Regions from separate parts of the Homo sapiens genome. Here region 2 is linked to region 1. A link means that fine-mapping ties the variant in region 1 to the expression of a gene that starts in the linked region. Tissue or cell type: whole blood. Region 1 holds a variant in brackets; the other region holds the start of a gene. All regions are shown on one strand. Distances are between the middles of the regions. Region 1 overlaps ABCC4 (ATP binding cassette subfamily C member 4 (PEL blood group)). Region 2 holds the start of ABCC4 (ATP binding cassette subfamily C member 4 (PEL blood group)).

Evidence for each region.
Region 2: ABCC4 starts here. The variant in region 1 is fine-mapped to the expression of ABCC4 in whole blood (TOPMed, PIP above 0.99).

The regions. Positions count from the first base shown.
Region 1 is chr13:95,239,502-95,247,826 of GRCh38, forward strand. ABCC4 (ATP binding cassette subfamily C member 4 (PEL blood group)) reads right to left here. Exons shown (of 31, transcript NM_005845.5): 2 at 8,142-8,252; 3 at 7,474-7,594. Among named protein-coding and RNA genes, the nearest start is that of SNORD13G, 33 kb to the left of the region's middle. RefSeq lists an enhancer at 5,472-5,551. The variant C/T (reference allele first, on the strand shown) is at 5,061.
Region 2 is chr13:95,296,963-95,305,287 of GRCh38, forward strand. It overlaps ABCC4 (ATP binding cassette subfamily C member 4 (PEL blood group)), which reads right to left and starts at 4,489. Exons shown (of 31, transcript NM_005845.5): 1 at 4,279-4,489. The coding sequence starts at 4,352. It overlaps LOC102724149 (a long non-coding RNA gene), which reads left to right and starts at 3,989. Exons shown (of 3, transcript XR_429273.4): 1 at 3,989-4,301; 2 at 4,984-5,364. RefSeq lists enhancers at 2,772-2,831, 4,434-5,208 and silencers at 4,025-4,664, 4,695-4,754, 4,935-4,994.

The sequences.
Region 1 (8,325 bases):
TACCAGAAAATGAGGAAGTTGCAAAGACTAATAGTATACATTCAAAAGACTCAGGGCCCAACTTCGATAGACTCCCACTAGCCAAAGACAGCCAAAGCGTGGCACAGGGATGATAACTGTAATGAACAGCACATCAGAACTGTTTAAATCCATGAGCTCACAATCATACTCATCAAAATATACAGAACAAGCAATAACAAAAAATCCATTAACTCCACAGGAAAATGCTGGAGAATCACTCATTATTTTGAAAATCGGTTTTAAAAAAAAATAACAAAATTAATCATTTCTCCTGCCTTTCCTATAGGTGTACTGTAACTCAGAGTATCAAAGAGTTGATAATGGCAAAGTTTCTCTTTATGCAAATATTTCAGCTAATAAATGAGGAACTGGAATATCACCACTTTGCAAACTCCTAACAAATTAATGCATCTTAAGCAATGATCATGAATGGCTCCAAATACCACACACACATAACCAGACCTAAGCGAGGTATCTCGAAGTGGCAGGTGGTACACACCCTCACCTACAAAGTACTCTTGCCAAAGGGAGGAGGGGGGAAAATAAAACCTGAATCACATCAAGCTTCTAGATCTAACTACTAACTTCTGGTACCAGATGGACATGTTAAATGATACAGCATGCAAGGATGTAGAGGGTCACAAGAGGGGAGGAGGGATATGCAATGAGCCCAATCTAGACCCTGGGAATCCGTGCAGGGCAAACAACACGGTTTCTTCAATTAGAAAGTACACACGCGGCTGGGCGCGATGTAATCTCAGCACTTTGAGAGGCTGAGGCAGGTGGACCACTTGAGGTCAGGAGTTCGAGACCAGCCTGGCCAACATGGTGAAACCCCATCTCTACTAAAAATACAAAATTACCCGGGCATGGTGGCAGATGCCTATAATCCCAGCTACTCAGGAGGCTGAGGCAGGAGAATCACTTGAACCCAGGAGGCAGAGGTTGCAGTGAACCAAGATCATGCCACTGCACTCCAGCCTGGGCAAGAGCAAAACTCCATCTCAAAACACACACACACACACACACACACACACACACACACATCTTCAGAGGGGGCAGTGAGCAGGGCTTCATAAAAATCAAGAGTGGTCATGAGTTGATAGTTACTGAAGCTGGCTTAGGGGTAGAGAGAGGCTTAGTATTCTATTATATTTTATATTTTTGAAATGATCTTTAAAAACCTAAGAAAGATCCCAGCATTTTGGGAGGCCGAGGCAGACGAATCACTTGAGGTCAGGAGTTCGAGACCAGGCTGGCCAACATGGTAAAACCCTGTCTCTACTAAAAATACAAAAATTAGCTACATGTGGTGGTATAAGCTTGCAATCCCAGCTATTCGGGAGGCTGAGGCAGAAGAATGGCTTGAACCAAGGAGACAGAGGTTGCAGTGAGCCAAGATCACACCACTGCACTCTAACCTGGGTGACAGAGTGAGACTCTGGCTCAAAAAACAAAACAACCAAAGAAAGAAAATACCACATGAGGCTTGGCCTTGGCCCTCATGTCAGGCAGCTGAACAAGAAATGTAGAATTGAAGTTATTAAAAACCACCTCATTGGCCAGGCACGATGGCTCATGCCTGTAATCCCAGCACTCTGGGAGGCCAAGGTGGGTGAATCACAAGGTCAAGAGATCGAGACCATCCTGGCCAACATGGTGAAACCCCATCTCTACTAAAAATACAAAAAAATTAGCTGGGTGTGGTGGCGCACACCTGTAGTCCCAGCTACTCAGGAGGCAGAGGCAGCAGAATCACTTGAACCTGGGAGGCAGAGGTTGCAGTGAGCCGAGATCGTGCCACTGCACTCCAGCCTGGTGACAGAATGAGACTCCATCTCAGGAAAAAAAAAAAAATACACATCTCATTTCTCAAAGAAACATTTAGATAATCTTCAACTATCTAAAATACAAAGACCAACAAGCAGCATAGATACAAATGGAGAAGCTGCCTGTGTCCTGGTTTGGCCCACACAGAGGATTCCCAAGCTCCTCCTTCCTCCTGCCCCCCCTGCAGGCTCTAAGTGGGTGGATACTTGCTCAGTCTCCAGTCCCCATCACAGTCTCCATGGAGGTGCACATAGGGGACAGATGTGCTGGAAATTTGCGGGCTGTTCTGTTCTAATTAGCATTTGCCTGGAAGAGCACCATGTTCACCATTAGACTAGTACTTGTTTCTCTGGGCATTATAATCATTCCTCAACTCTGACAATCGTTCCTAATCTCACTTGCATTACTTTGAAATTCCAACCTCAAAGACTCCCCGCAAACTGGTGTCACCATCTCTCTTCCTGCTGGTGCCATCATTAGTACCCAGGGAAGGCCCTGCTTGCCTTCAGCTTAGTTAAGAGTATATGGCTAGGGAGTTATGGATCCACTGCACAGTTGTTCTGTAACCAGAGGAATTAACCCATCTGTGCCTAGCATTCCATTATTGGAACACTAAGCTTGTGGGAGTTTATATTCTACTGTTCAACCTCATCGCCAAGGTCTGATCTTTCACACACAAAAAAAATTGGCAACCTCCGGCATAAGTGGGTTAAAAAAGGCCTGAAAGTCATCACAGAAGCTTTTTACTAAATGCTAGGTTAAGTTTAGAGCTTCCACTATCCAAAATACGAAGATCCACAAGCAGCACAGACACAAGACCAAAAAATGAAAAGCATCTTCATTAAATCAACTGTGAAACTAACATTTGTTCTAACTCCATAATTTTTTTTTTTGAGACAGAGTCTTGCTCTGTCACCCAGGCTGAAGTGCAGTGGCGTGATCTCAGCTCACTGCAACCTCCACCTCCCAGGTTCAAGCAATTCTCCTGCCTCAGCCTCCTGAGTAGCTGGGATTACAGGCGCCCACCACCATGCCCAGCTAATTTTTATATTTTTAATAGAGATGGGGTTTCACCAGGTTGGTCAGGCTGGTCTCGAACTCCTGACCTTGTGATCCGCCCGCCTTGGCCTCCCAAAGTGCTGGGATTACAGGCGTGAGCCACTGCGCCTGGCCTAATTTTCTTTTTTAGAGACAAGGTCTTGCTCTGTCACCCATGCTGGAGTGCAGTGGTGCAATCATAGCTCACTAAAGCTGGGAACTCCTGGGCTCAAATAATCATCCCTTGGCATCCCAAAATGCTGGGATTATAGGCATAAGCCACCATGCCTGGCCAATAAATAGCTTTAATGATTGAAAACCCAAAACAACACCTGAAATGCTTTTGAGATGTTACACTCACTACCTTCATCTTAAGAAATTATTTCTCTCCAACTTCTCCAAAACAGCCAAGTGTCAATAGGCAAGGCTGGGAAAACAATAGTATTTATACTAGAATTCAGGCTGTTTTCACTGCTAGAAGGAAAAGAAAAAAAAAAATCCAAGGATTACTTTGAGTTGAACTGGGAAGAGCTTTAGCTCCCTGAACTTCACTGCATCGGAACTAAAAGTTCTACCAGTTATTATGTTAAAGACACAAGGTTAAAATGAGCATCATCCACTAGTCACCATGATCCTCTAAAGAATAACTGACTACTGTCTAATTTTATACCATAAACCACCAAGATATTGGTGTAAACACAGGACCAACAAGTGCTCTCTTGTGAAAAGCCCAGGCTCCACTTTATATGAGAGGTGCCTGCCGCCAGCACTGTGTGGGTCCATCTTAACACCTTAGCCTGCCGCCCTAATACCTGGGGCCCACCTTGCTAGTGGGAGGGTTCAGATACCAGGACAGAAGAGCTGTCCCCATACTAGTGACTCATCTGGGGTCTTCATCCTTGCCAAGCAAACTGCACACCCACTTCACGATTCAGGCCAAAGGCTTCTGAAACTGCAGAGATATCATTGCTATGCAAGAAACCCAGAGCCTTTGATAAGTAAAAACAGGGAACTTGACATCCGCCCAGACCATCAGTCAATGTCGTGACCATGCAAGACCACAAGCTTCCCCCTCGTCCATCCGAGGAGGAGACAACTGGGAATGGTGTCTTAACAGCGTGGATGTTGATGAACTTGGGTCAGCAGGGCTGCACGCCTCACACATGTGGAGGATGGTACTCAGTGGGAGACAGGTTTCTAAAGGGTTCTTGGTCAGCCAGGCACAGTGGCTCACACCTGTAATCCCATTAATTTGGGAGGGCGAGGTGGGCCGATGGCTTGAGCTCAGGAGTTCTAGACCGGCCCGGACAACATGGTAAAACCTCATCTCTACTAAAAATACAAAAAATAAGCCAGGCATGGTGCATGCCTATAGTCACAGCTACTCAGGAGGCTGAGGTGGGAGGATTGCTTGAGCCCAGGGAGATGGAGGTTGCAGTGAGCTGAGATCACACCACTGCACTCCAGCCTGAGTGACAGAGTGAGACCCCACCTCAGACGAAAACATAAAAAAAAAAAAAGAGTTCGTGGTCAACCTGAATGTACCTTGGTGCTCTGACCTGCCCAGCACCCCAGCCACTCTCTAGCATGTCACCTGACTTTCCGGCACCAGGACACCTAGGAACCTAGGGTAATTTATAATCCCCAATCTGATTTCCCACAGCCATGCCCCACTGTTCCAGGGAGCTCTTAGCATCTGACTTATCCCTAGGCCAAGTTCAAGAAGCATGTGCTGGATACTCTGAAGACAGAGTTCTCAAGACACCTTTACGACAGTCTGGAGATGGTTAGGTCCCTAAGTCAGCGCTCCTGAGACTGAATCTGGGCTCTGTCATTTACACTTTGTGTGGCCCTAGGCACATTATATAACTACATGGCACCCAGTGTCCTCTTCCCAAAAGTAGGGTTAAAAGAATGCCTTCTGACTGAGCATGGTGATTCCTGCCTATAATCCCAGCACTTTGAGAGGCCAAGGTGGGAGGATCATTTGAGCCCAGGAGTTCAAGACCAACCTGGGCAACATAGTGAAACAAAAATACAAAAATTAACCAGGCATGGTGGCGTGCACCTGTGGTCCTAGCTACTTGGGAGGACTGCTTGAGCCCAGTAGGCCAAAGCTGCAGTGAGCCAAGATAGCACCACTGCACTCCAGCCTGGCAACAGAGTGAGAC[C/T]CTATCTCAAAAAACAAAATAAAATAAAATAACATGAAAGAAAGAAAGAAAGAAAGAAAGAAAGAAAGAAAGAAAGAAAGAAAGAAAGAAAGAAAGAAAGAAAGAAAGAAATCATAGCAGTTCCTGGTACATAGTATTTTTCAAGTACTCACTGTCAGTATTATTACAACTATTGCTACTATCACTGCTGCTGCTACTACTACTACTGAGTACCAACCACTACTAATCCTGCTGCTGCTTCTACTAGCACTGCTGCTGCTAAGCAGTACTGAGCATGAGCCCCCATATTTGCCAGGTCCTCCACTCCCTACTTTTCTGCCATGACTGCCCAATAACCACCCCGCTAAAAGACCAGCTCTCCACCAACTGTACCCATATTAAAGCTCCCCTCGATCCGGGCCCCTTCCCACATGCCCACCAGCAGTAAAGATTACCATGCTCCTTGCACCAGAGTGGGGCCTGTCCTCAAGTCTCAGGAGAAATTCACGCTTCTACAGCCTCTACTTCTGTGCCTGCTTCTCCCAAAAGCTTACCCAAATCTCACTGTAGTCCAGTCACCATCTGTGGGTTAGAGACCCCACCCCAAGTGGCTGGCAGCCCATGACAGCATGGACAGCCCTGAGCATGACAAGCTCAGTTCCTTCTAAATCATCCTGTTTTCAATTTCATAAGCAGCTGGTGACAAAGGGAAACTAGAGAAATGGAAGTAGCTGAGGGAGGCATGCCTCGAAACCTATGTGAGGCCATTGATTCCCACTACACCTAACCAGACACCTGGCATGAGCCTTAGACACTTACAGAGGCTCCATGGCTACCAGACAACTTCTCTGAGGTTGCACAGCCAAACTGGGCCAGGAAATCCTGCACACACTGGCCACATTGACACCGACTTGTCATTCTATTTCTTTCCAACTGAAACTGATCGGGGCCATGTGGAAACACTATCGCTGGGACACCCCAGCACAGGTTGAAGAGGGGCTGGGAGAACCTGAGGGGCTCCTAGCCCTCTTCCACCCTCAAGTCAGTTCCACCGGTTATTCTGCATGTCCACCCCATCTGCCACAAAGCCACAGTAGCATGCAGGCAGGGCGGGTACCCTCTCAAAGGTGGCATTCACCATCTGGCACCCTGGCCAAAACACCTTTGTCACCAATGAGACCATTCATCTCCCAGGACCGTCCAGTCCCCTGTTGTCTGACAGATTCCTCTGGTGTAGGGCAGAGCTCACCTACCTGCCTCCCACTGCCCACCGTGCCCTCCACAACAAAAAGCATGTTCAACAGGAGCAAACCCCCCCACATACAAACCAACCCCCTCCCCCCACCCACCTCATTCCCAACAAAATGCACCGTGACAACTCCCCATCCTGCATTTAAAGCCACCCTTTTGTAACAACAGCAACATCCACCCCTCTAACTTTAATGGACCACTGACATCCCTAAGGTAGCACAGAGGACACAAGTCACCCAGCAGGACCCTCTGCATCTCCTCTAGCAGGCCAAAGACCAGAACGGACAAGCTACCTGGCAGTGTGCCTAGGCAGAACACTGTCTTTCTGCAGATCTCAAGAGAGGCCCTTCGGGGTAACAGAGGTTATTGCCCTTCTGGCTGTCTTTGATTTTTCATGGAATGTCCATTTATACATTCTCTGCAGGGCCAGGCACCAAGACTCTACCTTCCAACCAGCAATCCACTCCGACAACAAGGAAGACACACCGGATGGGTGTGATGAATCCCCTTGGGTGCACAGTCCTCGGACCTTCTTCCCAGAGGGGATTTTGGCTCCCAGCACCTGGGCCCACTGGGAGGGGGTAGCTCTTGGGTGCTTCAGCCAGCTCCAGCCTCTGGGGCACCACCGCCAGCCCAGGTGCAAGGCCCTCAGCTCTGTTTCCCCGAGAGGGGAGAGGTGACAATACCTCTCCAGAAGAGCAATTATCAGATTTGGCTTGGTGAACAATTATTTGTTGAGCACCTGTAAAATGTCTTACATTATTCTGGGCTCCGATCCAAAATCACTTCCTCTAAACCACAGGGCACGCACTCCTCAAGGCTGTAGGATCCTCTTTTGACCAGGAGTGACTCTTAGCATTTAAAACATTTACCGAGCACCAACATTGTCCTACCATAGAATAAAATACTCTTCTTCCATGACACTGCATTTTAATTGGTTACAAGAAAAACAATAATGACCTTGAACTTCAGTCACTTAAGTATTCACCTGGATAAATACGCTCACTGAACTAACTACCTAATACTTCCTAGACATGTTTAATCCTTAGACCTTAAAATACCTTCAAACCCCATCTGGCCACTTCTCCCTTCTGTTCCCCCATCCATTACAGCACCAGTCAATGGCGAGCACATTTACTCTATGTGTCCTGAAAAACAATTCATGGTATGTAAAAGCTTTTACCTCAATTAACGTAAAAATTCCCAAAACTAAATAAGATTTCCAGTAACACTTTATGATTGCTCTTGTTAAAGAAGGCTTCTGTGCGTCATTCTCAGCTCTTAAAACTTCTTTATCCCAGAACCTACAATGAGGAAAAAGCTTCGTAAATAAGAGTGAACCCTGCCACAATATAAAACAGGGGAGATGGCAGAGTGACAGGTATGCATTTAAGACAGGGCATTTTGTGACGATTTCATAAATGCTACTAATTGCTCCCAGGGCTCCTGAAGGTTATGTGTGGTACAGAATCTGGAGCATCAGAAAAACAGGCCTTGAGGGGAAGTCTGGGGAAACAAGTTACTGCCAAGCTTTACTGGATTGAAGCCCCATCAGTAGCACAGATAAGCCAGACAACCTCCTCCAACCACAACACTTCCACCTAGAGGGACAGACCTCAGGCATCTCGGGCCTTTGGTGCTGGCTCCCCTGACCTCTACGGAGGCACAGGCAACAGGAGTTTCCCCCAGGCCACCATGGTAGGCTGAGCCTAGGGGCAGCCTGAGGAAGGTGACACATATTCACCTTAAGGGTAAACGGAGGCTCCAGACAGGACCCAGGAAGGCAAAACCCACTCCCCACACACAGACACCCACGCTTCCTTAATGCCCACTTTACTGCCTCCGACTTACCCTTGCAACTCCTCTCCAAGGTGCTGTGAGCGGTCTTCTGGCAGCACTGAATACATATCATCTTCCTCTAATCTCCGTTTATGGCCAATTTTAAACAAGGGATTGAGCCACCTGTTAACAAGAGAAAAGAGACATATATCCAGAATTACACATCCGTGTTTAAGTAGACTCCTACCTCCATGGG
Region 2 (8,325 bases), 57 kb after region 1:
GAAACAATAGCTAAAAGAAAATGGAAGGCCAGGCACAGTGGCTCACACCTGTAATCCCAGCACTTTGGGAGGCCGATGCAGGTGTATCACCTGAGGTCAGGAGTTCGAGACCAGCCTGGCCAACATGGTGAAACCCTGTCTCTACTAAAAACATGAAAATTAGCCAGGTATGGTGGTGGGCACTTGTAATCCCAGCTACTTGGGAGTCTGAAGCAGGAGAATCACTTGAACCCTGGAGGCGGAGGTTGCAGTGAGCCGAGATCACACCACGGCCAGCCTGGCAACAGAGCTAAAACTCTGTCTCATAAAAAAAAAAAAGAAAGAAAAAAGAAAGAAATAGGTGAAAATACTACCTTTAAAAATCCACAATTGCCAACAGCCATAATGCATGACTCCTTTTAGACTCCAAGTCCAAATTATGCTATAAATACACCAAAATCCCGGGAAAATACTTTGAATAAAAGTCAGTAAGCCAGTTATTGGCATCATTTAGGTAGGCAGCTGCCAGTTCACAAGTTCAGAAAGCAGATGATATTTGAGAAGAAAAGCAAACACTCAACAAGAAGGTGAAAAAGCAGTTTTTCCCTACAAGGTGGGCCCTGTCTCCAGGCAGCCACTTCCTGGATGGGCTCATTTCAGCTTTCCACTGGCAGTGGGAAGGGTACACAAATACTGACCTAAAAGCAGGAGGCTAAGGCACAAAATATAACTCAAGAATTTACTACAGACCCAGTGTGGTGGTTCATGCCTGTAATCCCAGCACTTTGGGAGGCCGAGGCAGGCAGATCGCTGGAGCTCAAACTCCTGAGCTGTGGATTACAGTGTCCTTGGGGCACTGTTAGGTTAATCTGTAGCTATGTGGCAATATGAAGTACTTTCGAGTGATAAGTAAATAGCTCAAGGGGGTGGGAACTACGAGGTGACTGCTGTGTCATTTTAATGTCTCTCTGGGCCTGATAATTTAAAAGGACTCCGCATTCCTCAGATGATGATTATTATTATTTTCTCACTATGAGGCCTCAGACTTTAAAATCCCTCAAACTGGCCCAGGCACAGTGGCTCATGCCTGTAATCCCAGCATTTTTGGAGGCCAAGGCGGGCAGATCACCTGAGGTCAGGAGTTCAAGACCAGCCTGGCCAACATGGTGCAACCCCATCTCTACCAAAAATACAAAAATTAGCTGGGTGTGAGGGTGCACGCCTATAGTCCCAGCTACTTGAGAGACTGGGGCAGGAGAATCACTTGAACCCAGGAGGCAGAGGTTGCAGTGAGCAGAGATTGCACCACTGCACTCCAGCCTGGGTGACAGAGCTGAGCAACAGAGAAAGACTCCGTCTCAAAAAAAAGAAATAAAGAAATTTTAACAATTAAAAATAAAGAAAAGCATAATACTGTAATAATACTCCAATGAAAGGAGTAGCTGGAAGCAGTAAGCGCCTCAAATCAGGATCACCTGGAGCACTTGAAACCTCACCACCCCCACCCACACACCCAGTGTTTCCAGTTTTACTGAATCAGTCCAGAGTGGATGCTGGAGAATCTGCATCTCTTAGAATCTCCCAAGTGATGCCGATGCTGCTGCTCTGAGTGCTATGCTTTGAGAACAGCTGCCCTAAAGCACACTAATAGTTGTTACACATGCATCATCTCCAACTGCAGGTACTTTAAGAATTTCCCTTGAGAAACTCTAGCCTTCCAGAACAGGGAGCGCCTTCTCCATGCATTTCCGACAGCACCTGAACTGGAAGCAGCTCAGTACAGCAGCTCCAAAGAGGCTGGGGAGCCAGTCTGCCCAGCTTTGGAGCCTGCTCTGACACTTGATTGTTGTGTGAGTCCAGGCAACTTAACCACTCTCAGCTTAAGTGTCCTCGGAGTAAAACAGAGGTCTACTAGCTCCTTCCCTTCCATCAGGGAAACCGGAAATGAACACCTACTCAAGTCATCAATGGGAGCGCATCACTTCCTATTTCCCTGCCACCTACATTTTGAAAATGCAGGGGGAGAAAAATATAAGGAGGCAGGAGTCACATCTGTAATCCCAGACTTTGGGTGGCCGAAGCGGGAGGAACACTTGAGCCCAGGAGTTCAAGACCAGCCTGAGCAACAACATAGAGAGCCCTATCTCTACAAAAAAAATTTTTTTTTATTATCCGGGCATGGTGACACACACCTGGAGCCCCAGCTACTCGGGAGGCTGAGGCAGGAGGATTGCTTCGGCCCAGGAGTTGGAGGCTGCAGCAAGCTATGAATGTGTCACTGCCCTCCAGCCTGGGTCACAGCTTGCACAAAGCAAGATCCTGTCTCAAAAAAAAAAAAAAAAAGTTCCTTGCCCTGCCTGAAGTTGAGGAGACCATTTGTCTACCTCAAGTTATTATTTGCAGAAACCACACCCATATTCCTTCCTCCTCCACGTGCCCCTCTCCTTAAGAGAAAGGCCGCCAAACAACCAAGAGAAGTTCCTACACCCACTGAGTGTACCACAATCGAAACAAGAGTAAGCGACTCATCCTCTTGGAATCCCCTAGGTCAAGCTTGTCCAACCTGAGGCCCATGGGCTGCCAAATTCGTAAGCTTTCTTAAAACATCAGATTTTTTTTTGCGATTTTTTTTTAGCTCATCAGCTATCATTAGTGTTAGTGTATGATTAGTGTTAGTGTATTTTATGTATGGCCCAAGACAATTCTTCCAGTGTGGCCCAGGGAACCCAAAAAATTGGAGACCCCCACCCTAGGTTGTCCCATAATAAAAGGCAATATCAACATGTGGGAAAGATGAGGCGGCAGAGGTCAAGAAACAGAAGATCTAATAATCATCCAAGTGAGATTGAAGCCCTTCAAAGGTTCAGGCTTATGTAGTTAGCAGACGGAATTCCCCCACACACACCCGCCACTCCCCCAAGACGGAGTCTCACTCTGTCACCCAGGCTGGAGTACAGTGGGGCGATCTCAGCTCACTGCAACCTCCGCCTACTGGGTTCAAGCAATTCCCCTGCCTCAGCCTCCTGAGTAGCTGGGATTACAGGCGTGCTCCACCACACCCGGCTAATTTTTGTATTTTTAGTAGAGACGGGGTTTCACCATGTCAGCCAGGCTGGTCTCGAACTCCTGACCTCGTGATCCACCCACCTCTGCCTCCCAAAGTGCAGGGATACAGGCGTGAGCCACCGCGCCAGGCCAAGATGGAAATTTTAGTTACTACTGTCACCCGAGTCTTTCTCCGTTTGTTTCCTTGCACAAAATGGGTAGGGCTGTGGGCCCTCCCAGCTCAGGAGCCCTGGGGTGGTTTTAAGAAGGTAGAACTCCTGGTAGGAACCACCTGCATCAAGACCATGGATCACCTCTCTGAAGGTTAGCGATTCCAGGGACCCCACCTCCGAGCTGTCCTCCTACGTGGAAGTGAAAGTATTGGAAACAGGGGAAAGAAGCTGGTCAAAGACAGACTCCAGTCGTGGCGGTGCATGTCCCAGTTAAAAGCAAATCCTGGAAAATCTTGTTCAAGAACAGGGTCCCCATTCATAAATGAAAAATAATAATAGTGTTATTTTACCCACATGAAACTTGCCATAACTAGGTACCACGACCCACATGGACACACAGTGAGATTCCCACAAAGAGGCAAAAGGAGAGCCCTGGTCACTGAGACAAAAGATACAGAGACACCGGGACACAGAGAGGTACAACGGGACGTGGAGTTGGATCGAGCTGTCTCGTAAGGAATATCGGAAGGGGTGGGGACACTACTGGGAGATGGCATAGGTCCAGGACACTAATTAGGCTTTGGCTGAGATCAGATAAAGGAAACTGTTCGTAAGCTGCTTACTTAAAAAGAAAGGAAAAGGTGCGTTTGAGTTCAGGAGACTGCGAGTCCCAGAGCAGGAGGCGGGAGCCAGCGAAGGGTGGGCGTGTAAGGGGTGCAGTCGCTTCTCCCGCTGGGCAAGAGACTCCCCCTTTCGGCAGCCTGGGTTCCCCGCCTCCCCACCTCCTGCTCCTCCTCCCCCGAGCCCTAAGGGCCCGCAGGGCCTCCAGTAGCAAAGCCACTGGCCCCGCGTCCCCGCGTCCCCCTGCGCCGCGCCCCGGGGCGCAGGCAGGGACCACGCGGCCGGCGTGGGGGCGGCGCCACCCGCAGCAGAAAGCCCCGGCGTGGACCGCGTGGCGTAGGAAAGCGCTCCCCTCGCCCCCAGCCGCAGAGGGCTTGGGCAGCATCGGGCGCGGCCCCGGGAGAGTGCGTCCGCGGCGCCAGCGGCTGCAGGGTGACCTGTTTCGGGCGGGGACACTCACCAGAAGAACACGCGTGAGCAGAGGTTCGCGTCCTGCAGCGGGTTGGGCTTCACCTCCTGGTACACGGGCAGCATCTTGCCGGGCGGGGCGGGCGCGGGCCGGGGTCGCGCTGATCAGGCGGCGGTGGCCGCGGGCTCCGCTCCTGGACCTCAAGCAGGGATGCTGGGGCTCCGGCCGCCACGCCTGTCCGCTCGGCTGGAGCCTGTGAAGCAGCCGCTTCCGGGAGCCGGGCGCCGGCGGCACGCCCCGTCCCCGCCTCTCAGGCCCGCCGCCTCGGGGGCGCCCGCTACGCGCCGCCGCCTGGAGCCCGGGAGCTGCGCACCGCGTGCGAGCGCGGCCGGGACCGACGGGTGACGCGGCGGGAGGAGACGCGGCGGGAGGAGGCGAAGCTGGCGACGCCAAAGGGAGCCCAGAGCTACGCCCAGGGGTGAGGCGAGGGCCGCCTGCGCCGCTGGATGGAGAGGGTAGCAGAGCGCGCGGCAAGGAGGCCGGGTCCGGAGGTGCCCACGTGCACGAACCCGAGTGAAACTTTCCGAAATTCACTATCCGAGTCTAGGCGCCGACACAGAAGGTGGAGCAGGGAGGCGTCGGCTGTGCCCGCCCCTGCGCCGCAGAAACGCCCCCTCGGCTACGGGTTTGGGAAGACTGGGAGACAGCTGCCTCGTGCTCTAGCAGCCCGCCCCCTGGGCGCCTTTCCCTTCTCAGGACCAAACGACGGTGCCATGGGAGGCTCTTCAACCTGTGAGCCAAACATTTGACCTTGGACGACAGCAAAGTTTAGCCACAGATTATCCTTGTAGAGCTGCAAGACCTCAAGAAAGCCGGGTAACTCGAGAGTATGACCCAGATGAATTCGGGAGATGGATGAATGCTGTCGTCGATGGGGGCGGGCTTTAGGCATCTCACATGTTGCATGCTACGGTGGACCTCTGAGCTTTTTGCTGCCCCCTTAGATTGGGAAAGGAATATAAGAGGAAAGAGAGACTGCCTGATGATTTCTGTCGTCAAGCCCTAAAGCCTAACAGATAACAGTGGCAAACGACACGTGGGTTCCAGAATACCAGTGATGTTCATGTGCATTTCTGAGTGCGTAGCCTCACTAGTGTGTGTGTGTGTGTGTGTGTGTGGCAGTCTCACACACAGTGTCACGATTATGGCTCATTGCACCCTCGACCTCCCAGGGCTCAAGCAATCCTCCCAACTCAGTTTAAGTAGCTAGGACTACAGGCACCCGCCACCACACCCGGCTCATATTTTGTAATTTTTGTAGAGATGCAAAAATCAAAATCAAAGGCTCCAAGTTCAAATACTGATAATTTTTGAAGCCAAATGATTGTCATGGAGGTTTATTTTCTTCATATTTCATGCATGTTTGAGAATTTGGTTTTCTTTGTAATAAGATCATTTTATTGTTCCTTGATAATTTCTCACTTTGTTGCCCAGGCTGGTCTCAAACTCCTAGGCTCAAGTGATCCTCCCACCGTGGCCTCCCAAAGTGCTAGGATTACAGGCATGTACCACCACGCCCGACCAATTATCTCACTTTTAATTCTATCAGTGCCCCATTCAAGGTTATCCTTACTTTATAGATGAGGAAGGTGAAGCTGAAAGGCAGAACTTGTCCAGTCTTAGAGCCAAGAAAGGATAAAACATGATTTGCAATAAGCCTATGTCTAAGCATGGCCTGTCTCCCTGGTGGATGGCCAGTGTGCATGAGAAGTGCCCAGAATATGCTGGTTGAATGGCTGTAGGAATGAATGAACAAAATCTTGTTCCAAGCTTGTGTACTCCCACCTCTAAGTCTTCAGTCATTTCTGTGGCTACCTTAACAAGGTCAGCAGCTGCTCTTCATATCCACCCTGAATGAAAAAAAATGAAAGGCTCCAAGTTCATGGTGCTTGGAACAAGATCATTTTATTGTTCCTTGATAATTTCCCATGTATATTTGCTAAAATAGTATAGTTAATAGCTTTTAAAGAAAGCCTTACACAAACACATATTTAAAAGTCAAGCACAGGCTAGCCAGCATAGTGAGGCTCTGTCTCTACCAAAAGTTTTAAAAATTAGCCCAGGTGTGGTGGCGTACCCTTGTAGTCCCAGCTACTCGAGAGGCTGAGACAGGAGGATGGCTTTAGCCCAGGAGTTCCAGGCTACAAGGAGTTAAGAAGGTGCCCACTGGGCTGGGCACAATGGCTCACGCCTATAATCCTAGCACTCTGGGAGGCTGAGGCAGGTGAATCACCTGACGTCAGGAGTTCGAGACCAGCCTGGCCAACATGGTGAAACCCCATCTCTACTAAAAATACAAAAAATTATCTGGGTGTGGTGGTGGATGCCTGTAATCCCAGCTACTCAGGAACCTCAGGCAGAAGAATCACTTGAACCCAGGAGGCGGAGGTTGCAGTGAGCCGAGATCATCCCACTGCACTCCAGCTTGGCAACAAGAGTGAAACTCCGTCTCAAAAAAAAAAAGAAGGTGCCACTGCACTCCAGGCTGTACAAGCCCATAATCCCAGCACTTTGAGAGGTGGAGACAGGAGGATTGCTTTAGCCCGGGAGTTCTAGACCAGCCTGGGCAACATAGGGAGACCTCATCTCCACTAAAAATGTGAAAATTAGATGGGCATGGTGGAGTAAGTCTGTAGTCCCATGTAACCTGGAGGCTCAGGTGGGAGGATTGCTTGAGCCCAGGAGTTCTAGACCAGCCTGGGCAACAAAGGGAGACCTCATCTCTACTAAAAATGTAAAAATATGATGGGTGTGGTGGCGTGAGTCTGTAGTCCCAGCTGGAGGTTCAGGTGGGAGGATTGCTTAAGCCCAGGAGTTGGAGGCTACAGTAGGCTATGATCACACCACTGCCCTCCAGCCTGGGCTAAAGAGTGAGACTCTGTCTCAAAAAAAAAAAAAGTCAAGCACATAAGAATGGCAAAATATTGATAATTTTTGAAGCCAAATGATGTGTCATAGGGGTTTATTTTCTTACATTTCATGCATGTTTGAGAATGGTTTTCTTTTTGGAGATGGGCTCTCAGTATGTTGCCCAGGCTGGACTCAAGCTGCTGGGCCCAAGGGATCCTCCTGCCTCAACCCCTCCAAGTACCTGGGATTGTAGGCACTCGCCAGCATACCAGCTCATGTTTCAGAATTTCTGTCACAAAAAGGAACACAATATTTTAAGTTGACTACTGTGGGAAAGCTATGATCATTCAATAACCTACCTTTCTGATAGCTCTTTCTCAGATAATATAAGCTATAAACCAAAATAGTCAGCCTTCACCTGATTTACAGTGCCCTTTGAAACTTCCTAAGTTTTCTAGCCCAGTAAATGCTGAGCTACCAGTTCTACTTCCAAGCTAGAGAACCTGTTTACTAAAGTTAGAAGTCTAGTGACTTCCTCTGTCAGACTGTCCCAGAATGCTCTCCCTACCCCCAACAACTGTGTAAGAACCGTCATTAGCCATCTCCAAATTGCCAAAGTGCTCAGTCCCTTCGGCTCCTGCAGAGGCTTATTTTTTTCTTAATTAAGATCTTTTGGAACTTCTTAACATTCTTTTCTGAACATTAACAATGTGGTGTTTGGAAGAGATACTATAGAGCAGTGTCTGACTGCAGAGAGGAGTGGATATGGAACCAGGGGGCCAGGGCTTTATATCTTTTCACTTGTTACCTAACCTTTCTGACCCTTATTTTTCTCAGGTCTAAAATGGGGTCGGGGCGGGCGCAGGGGCTCATGCCTGTTATCCCAGCACTTTGGGAGGCGGAGGCAGACAGATCACCTGAGGTCAGGAGTTAGAAACCAGCCTCGCCAACATGGCAAAACCCCCTCTCTACTAAAAATACAAAAATGATCTGGGCGTGGTGGCATGTGCCTGTAATCCCAGCTACCTGCGAGACTGAGGCAGGAGAATTGCTTGAACCAGGGAGTCAGAGGTTGCAGTGAGCCGAGATCATGCCACTGCACTCCAGCCTGGCGACAGAGCGAGATTCTGTCTCAAAAAAAAAAAAAAAAAGATAAAAATTAGCCAGGCTTGGTGGCATGCGCCTGTA